Linked DNA regions of Homo sapiens. The protein of the gene in region 1 interacts with the protein of each later gene in a biochemical or structural test. Each region holds a gene or a part of one and is shown on either strand. Other genes may lie near its edges.

Evidence for each region.
Region 2: the proteins of NUPR1 (region 1) and KPNA4 form a complex in vitro, tested with the Homo sapiens proteins (one study listed by BioGRID).

Annotation. Positions count from the first base shown.
Region 1 is NC_000016.10:28,535,948-28,540,417, forward strand, and holds the start of NUPR1 (nuclear protein 1), read right to left. Parts: upstream 3,028-4,470; 5' UTR 2,961-3,027; coding exon 2,849-2,960; intron 2,263-2,848; coding exon of another isoform or gene 2,209-2,262; coding exon 2,072-2,208; 3' UTR 2,059-2,071; intron 1,723-2,058; 3' UTR 1-1,722. UniProt on the Homo sapiens protein: Transcription regulator that converts stress signals into a program of gene expression that empowers cells with resistance to the stress induced by a change in their microenvironment.
Region 2 is NC_000003.12:160,497,040-160,499,571, reverse strand, and holds part of KPNA4 (importin subunit alpha-3), read left to right. Parts: 3' UTR 1-2,532. UniProt on the Homo sapiens protein: Functions in nuclear protein import as an adapter protein for nuclear receptor KPNB1. Binds specifically and directly to substrates containing either a simple or bipartite NLS motif.

The DNA.
Region 1 (4,470 bases):
CGATCCTCCCTCCTTGGCCTCCCAAAGGCTGGAAGGCTGAGGTGGGCAGATCATTTGAGGCCAGGAGTTTGAGACCAGCCTGGCCAACATGATGAAACCCCATCTCTACTAAAAATACAAAAATTGGCCAGGCGTGGTGGCTGACGCCTGTAATCCCAGCACTTTGGGAGGCCAAGGTGGGTGGATCATGAGGTCAAGAGATTGAGACCATCCTGGCCAACATGGTGAAACTCTGTTTCTACTAAAAATACAAAAATTAGCCAGGCATGGTGGCAGGTGCCTGTAGTCCCAGCTACTCAGGAGGCTGAAGCAGGAGAATAGCTTGAACCCAGGAGGCGGAGGTTGCAGTGAGCTGCGATCATGCCACTGCACTCCAGCCTGAGCAACAGAGTGAGACTCTGTATCAAAAAAACAAAAAAACAAAAATTAGCCAGGCGTGGTGGTGCTCACCTGTAATCCCAGCTACTCAGGGGGCGTAGGCACGAGAATTGCTTGAACCCGGGAGGCAGAGGTTGCAGTGAGCCAAGATGGTGCCACTGCACTCTAACCTGAGCAACAGAGTGAGACTCTGTCTCAAAAAAAAAATTGTAGAGATGGGGTCTTACTATGATGCTCAGGCTGGTCTCAAACTCCTAGGCTCAAGTAATCCTCCCACTTCGGCCTCCTAAACTGCTGTGATTACAGGCATGAGCCACTGCTCCCAGACTTTAGTTTTTGTTTGTTTGTTTGTTTTGAGACAGAGTCTCCCTCTGTCACCCAGGCTGGAGTGCAATGGCACGATGTCGGCTCACTGCAACCTCTACCTCCTGGGTTCAAGCGATTCTACTGCCTCAGCCTCCTGAGCAGCTGGGATTACAGGCACCTGCCACCATGCTTGGCTAATTTTTGGTATTTTTAGTGGAGATGGGGTTTCACCATGTTGGTCAGGCTGGTCTTGAACTCCTGACTTTGTGATCCACCCACCTCGGCCTCCCAAAGTGCTGGGATTACAGGCGTGAGCCACTGCCCCCGGCCCTGGCTTTTAATATTTTAAATCTCAGTTTTCTCTGACTTTTAGATGGCACTCATAAGTAGCGTTCCCGTCTATGAACAGGACACAATCAACAAAAACAGGTGCTGGGGAGGGCCGTGTTTCATGGGCAGTATCGCAAAAAAGCAGAAGAAATTCCTTTCCACTACGTAGGAGCCCACAGAAATGTATGCACTAAAATATATGCAAGCAAAAGCAAACAAACCAAAAGCTGCATTCACAGCGTAGACCCTGCAAGAGCAGGAACACTCCCTGCCCCAGATACATACACCAAACACAAATACACATCAAAGATGCTCTCTCAGGCTCATGAATGTGCAGGCACAGGCAAGCACACACATGCCCGAACAAAAACACACAAAGAACAAGGATGAACACACACCCAAGCTGTGGCTGCCGTGCGTGTCTATTTATTGTTGCTGCCACCCTGGAGGAGCCCCAGTTTCTTCTGTAGCTTTCTTTTCTGGGGGATCTTCCTGGCTCTGCCCCTCCATTCCCAGCCTCTCACTCCCCATCTTGCACTTTTGCTAGGGTTGGAGGCGCTTTCCTGGTAGCCCCTCAGAGACTCAGTCAGCGGGAATAAGTCCTAGGGGTGGGGGGTGTGGCAAGCCGGCCTGGATCCTGTCCTGGGTCCTCCTTCCTCCGCAGTCCCGTCTCTATTGCTGGGTGTAGTGTCCATGGTCTGGCCTCATCTGGGGGGTGAGGAAAAGCAGGTGGTAAAAGGGACAGAGATCTGGGTTCTAATTCTGCCTCTCCCACTCACTTGATTTGTGACTCCAGGGAAGGACCCACCCTCTCTATCCTCAATTTCTGTCTCTGTAAGTCAAATTTCCCTTCAATTGGAAAGGTTCTGTGTTCCCACTTTGCTCTGGCCACTAGGAAACTCACAATCAAACATATGTCTCGTTTTATTCTGCATCAAGACAACAGTTGCCTGATCCCTCCTCCCCACCCAATCACACACCTTCCGGCCTGTCCTTCATGGCAGAAGCACCACCTTGAGCTCTCTGGGCCCCCCGACTCCTTACCTCCAGCTCTGTCTCAGCGCCGTGCCCCTCGCTTCTTCCTCTCTGAATTCTGCAGCTTGGTCACCAGTTTCCTCTCGTGCCCGCCAGGGCTGGGGCGGTTGGTGTTGGCAGCAGCTTCTCTCTTGGTGCGACCTTTCCGGCCTCCACCTCCTGTAACCAAGGCAGGAGTCAGAGGTGAAGTGGGCATAGGCATGATGAGAGGCCCTGTCAGAGGAGAGGCAGGGGTTCAGGGTTGTGGGGATGGGAAGAGCAGGGAGAAGCCTGCTGCTTCCCCTCTGTGGAATGTGGGACCCCAGATGTGTGTGAGGTCCCAGGCTGAGTAACATAGCACTCCTGGGATAAGGGATTAGACAGGGGTGACGTGAGGGTCCAAGGAACAGGTTGGCTAGAAAAGGGTGAGTGGGCTGGGCAGGGTGGCTCACTCCTGTAATCTCAGCACTTTGGGAGGCCAAGGCAGGAGAATTGCTTGAGCCCAGGAATTTGGGATCAGCCTGGGAAACATAGTGAGACCCCATCTCACCACTGCAGGTGGTGTACACCTGAAGTTCCAGCCACTCAGGAGGCTGAAGCAGGAGGATCACTTGAGCCCAGGAGTTCGAGGCTGCGGTGAGTTGTTTGAGTTGTTGTGATCACACTACTGCACTCCAGCCTGGGTGACAGAGTGACTCTCTCAAAAAAAAAGAAAGAAAGAAACGAAGAGGAAAGGAAAGGAAATGAGAGGAAACAAGAGGGGTGGGTCCTGATTTCGGGAGAGGAGGAAGGACCGTGGAGATGGCTGAGTGGGCCTTACCGAGGTAGGAATGGGCCAGGCTATAGAGGTCAGATTCATCCAGGCTGGAGTCCTCGTCCTCCGGGCCTGGGGGCTGCTGGGGGGCGCTGGTTGCTGGTGGGAAGGTGGCCATCGTGCCTGGCTTGTCTTCCCTGCCTCTCTTCTTCTCCTAACGCTTTGTCTGTCTCTGCTTTCCTGGCCCCGGGCCTCTCCACTCCCTCAGCTTATAAGGCTGTGTCTCCTCCTCAGACCACAGTCTGGCTCCAGCCCATCAGGCCCTGTCTGATGCAATCTGGCCCCTTCCCAAAATCCAGCCCAGTAAACACAGTCATGAGACGGGAAGAGTCGGTCCCTGAGTCCAGCCCAACTCACCTCCTCCCTCCCAGGCTCACCCAGCTGGATATTTTCCATAGAGGAGGTCCCGCTTCTCGGCAGAAAGCAGGGAAGAGGCAGGATCTGGGCTAAAACACTCGTTGGGATCATGGCCTCACCTGATCGAGGGCTTCACCTGGGCCTGGGATGACGGCCACACAGCTAACCCCGGCACCCCAATTCTCGCTGAGATGCAGGACGTGAGGAAGGAGGGGGAAGGGATATCAGCACACTTGTGCCAGGGACAAGTCAGTGGCTTCCACCCAGTCACACTCAACATCTTGCTTGTCTTCTTTTTTTTTTTTGAAATGGAGTCTCTGTCGCCCGGCTGGAGTGCAGTGGTGTGATCTTGGCTCACTGCAACCTGCAACCTCCTCCTCCCAGGTTCAAGCAATTCTCCTGGCTCAGCCTCCCGAATAGCTGGGATTATAGACATCTGCCACCATGCCTGGCTAATTTTTGTATTTTTAGTAGAGATGGGGTTTCACCATGTTGGACAGGCTGATCTTGAACTCCTGACCTCAAGTCATCTGCCTGCCTCGGCCTCCCAAAGTGCTGGGATTACAGGCATGAGCCACACCCTTTTTTTTCTTTTTTCTATGAGAAACATCTTGGAAAACCCCTTAATATCCTGAAACAGGGTCCCCAGTAATGTAATCTCCCTCACCTAGGAGGAGGGTGGCAGAGGGTTGGAGAGTTCAGGGTCTGGAGCCAGTTGCCCTCAGTTCAATCCCCTGACCCACCACTTTCCGTGTGACCTTGGGCGAGTCCCTTCACCTCTCTGTGCCTTGGTTTCCAATTCTGTAAAATAAGGATGATAATAATTGTATCTTCTTCCTAGAGTTGGGGAGAGGATCAAATGAGATAATGTTTGAAAGACACATGCTACAGTGCCCGGTGACAGAGGGAGACCCTGTCTCAAAAACAAATTATAATAAAATAATATGTATTTCAAAATATGGATGTACTGAGGCAGAAGACACAATGAGGCCGAGCGTGGTGGCTTATGCCTGTAGTCCCAGCACTTTGGGAGATCCACAAAGTGGGTGGATCACCTGAGGTCAGGAGTTCAAGACCAGCCTGGCCAACATGGCGAAATCCCATCTCTACTAAAAATACAAAAATTAGCCTGGTGTGGTGGCAAGTGCCTGTAATCCCAGCTACTCAGGAGGCTGAGGCAGGAGAATCGCTTGAACCTGGGAGGGAGAGGTTGTGGTGAGCTGAGATCGAGCCACTGCACTCCAGCCTCAGCAACAGAATGAGACTGTGTC
Region 2 (2,532 bases), on another chromosome or scaffold:
TGGGAAGGGCTTTTCTGTCTCTGAAATTGATTCAGTACAGTTGACAGTTCATCACGGTTACCTGGTTAAACACTTTTTTTTTTTTTTTAATTCTCCAGTGATCTAGGAAATTGTTTCATTTTTAACACAGGCTTATTTCTGATGGGGATGGGGGCATAGAATAATATGCCTAATAAGCTAAACGTTCTTAACGTTTCATGTCTTAAACTGTCTTTTTGAACATTGAGACCACCTCAAGTGCTGTAAAAATAAGAATGTTATATTAGGGGTGTGTGAGACGCCCTAGTCTAAAATCTATCTTTAAATATATTTCCTTTGTAATTTTCAAAGACTTCAGTAATTGTGTGTTATGGTGGAAATAATACTTTCCATTGGTCCACATTGCTCTGGACCAAACCTGGAGCATTTCTATAATTAGAGCTATCTATGAATCATTAAAAATGGATCTAGAATAATTTTGGGGAGAGGGAGTGTATCATTTAGTTTAGGCTTACCTCAGCAGCACTTCATAGGGTGAGGAGTTGTTTGTTTCTTTAAAGGTATAACTGCATTGTAAAATGACTGGGTTTATTGTAACAGTAATTTATGGGGGCACCCTTTTTGGATTCTCCATTGCCTCAGTTTCCTCAAGGAAAAAGTTACAGAGATTAAGCTAAATTTTGAATTTAGAGAATAACTGCTGTGTAATTTTGGTATAATTACCATAAATTTAGTGTCTTAAAACACAACATACATTATTTCACAATTTCTGTAGGTCAAGAGTGTAGTTAGGTTTTCTGCTCAGGGTCTCACAAGGCTGCAATAAAGGTGTCAGCCAGAGCTGCAGTCTTATCTGAAGCTAGGGGGTCCTCTTTTATGCACATATGGCAAAATCCATTGCCTAGCAACTGAAGAAATCATGGGAACTTCTTCAAGGCCAGCAAGAGAATCTCTGATCTCAGGGAAGGCCTTAAGCGCTTTTTTAAAGGTCTCACCTGATTAGATCAGGCCACCTACCCACCAGGGTGATCTCCCTTTTGATTAACCCAAAGCCAAACTGATGAGGTACCTTCATTACCCCTGCAAAATCCCTTCACCTTTGCCCTGCATTGTAGTCCAATCACAGGGGTGATACGCATCATATTCAAAGATCCTGTTCACAGTCAAGGGAGGGGGTTATATGGAGTATGTATACCAGGGAATCTTGGGAGCCATCTTAAGAGTTCTTCCTATGACAAGGACTCAACTATTTAGAACTGGAACAATTTACAAGTGATAGCCTTATATAGTTATCATAGCAAGCTTATTTGGGGATCAAGGTTGCCTCTGAGAACCTAATGAAAACTGGACCAGCTTCCCCAAAAAGTGTATATACATGGTAGTTTTTCATACAGTTTTAGGGGATTCATAAGAGTCCATGAATTACAGTCTGTCCCAACCCTTCCCTTTAGATGATGAGTTGTTGAGGTGACTTGCCCAAGGTCACACAGCTACTAAGGGCCAAATAAAGCCCACATCTCAACTCCCATACTGCCCAGGGCTTCTAATTACTATTCTAAAGGTAATCTAAATTCATTTAAATTTGTGAACCAATGCAAAAAAATGTGAATGTAGCTTTTTGGATATTTTTTTTGTTTACTAAGGAATGGGTAACATTGTTATAGAAGCTTGCCTAAGAGTTTTGAAATTAGTTGACCTTTTTGAGTTTCCAAAATTGAATCTTCCATTGTAGCTATTAAAGTGAACTATAAATAGGCCAACTTTAATTGTTAACTCCTCGGGTTTGGTGGATTATCTACCATTTATATATAAAATTTCAGTTAGAATCCACCATTGGCGTTTTGAAGGCCAAGATAGCTGAGTATCTTATCCTTTTTGTAACTTCTTGATTATTTTACTTATTGGCAAAATTCATTAACTGTCAGCCAATAATTTAATATTATGGGAGGAAAAAATTTTGCCCAGATATCTGAGGCAATACTCCCAAACACTAACAAACTGATGCCTAACAAACTTGACATTTTGAACACTTAAAGTTTTCCCTAAACTTTTTAATAAGCACATTAATAAAGTATGCTTTTAAATATATATGTACAATAATTTTTAAAAGTTGCTGCAAGATGCCTTCAAATCAATATGCACGTTGGTGGCATTAGTGCAGTCTTCTATTTTTATTTTTTTGAGACACAGTCTCGCTCTGTGGCCCAGGCTGGAGTGTAGTGGCGCAATCTCGGCTCACTGCAACCTCTGCCTCAAGGGTTCAAGCAATTCTGCCTCAGCCTCCTGAGTAGCTGGGATTACAGGAGTACGCTACCACGCCTGGCTAATTTTTGTATTTTTAGTAGAAATGGGGTTTCACCGTATTGGCCAGGCTGGTATTGGAATCCTGACCGCAAATGATCTGCCCACCTCGGCTTCCCAAAGTGCTGGGATTACAGGCGTGAGCCACTGCGCCCAACCAGCCTTAATTCTTAATAAAGGAAGTTGAAAAATAATGAACATTGGTAAAACTATTCTAGTGTGATCAGAAGCAAATTTGGACTGTAGTGTCAA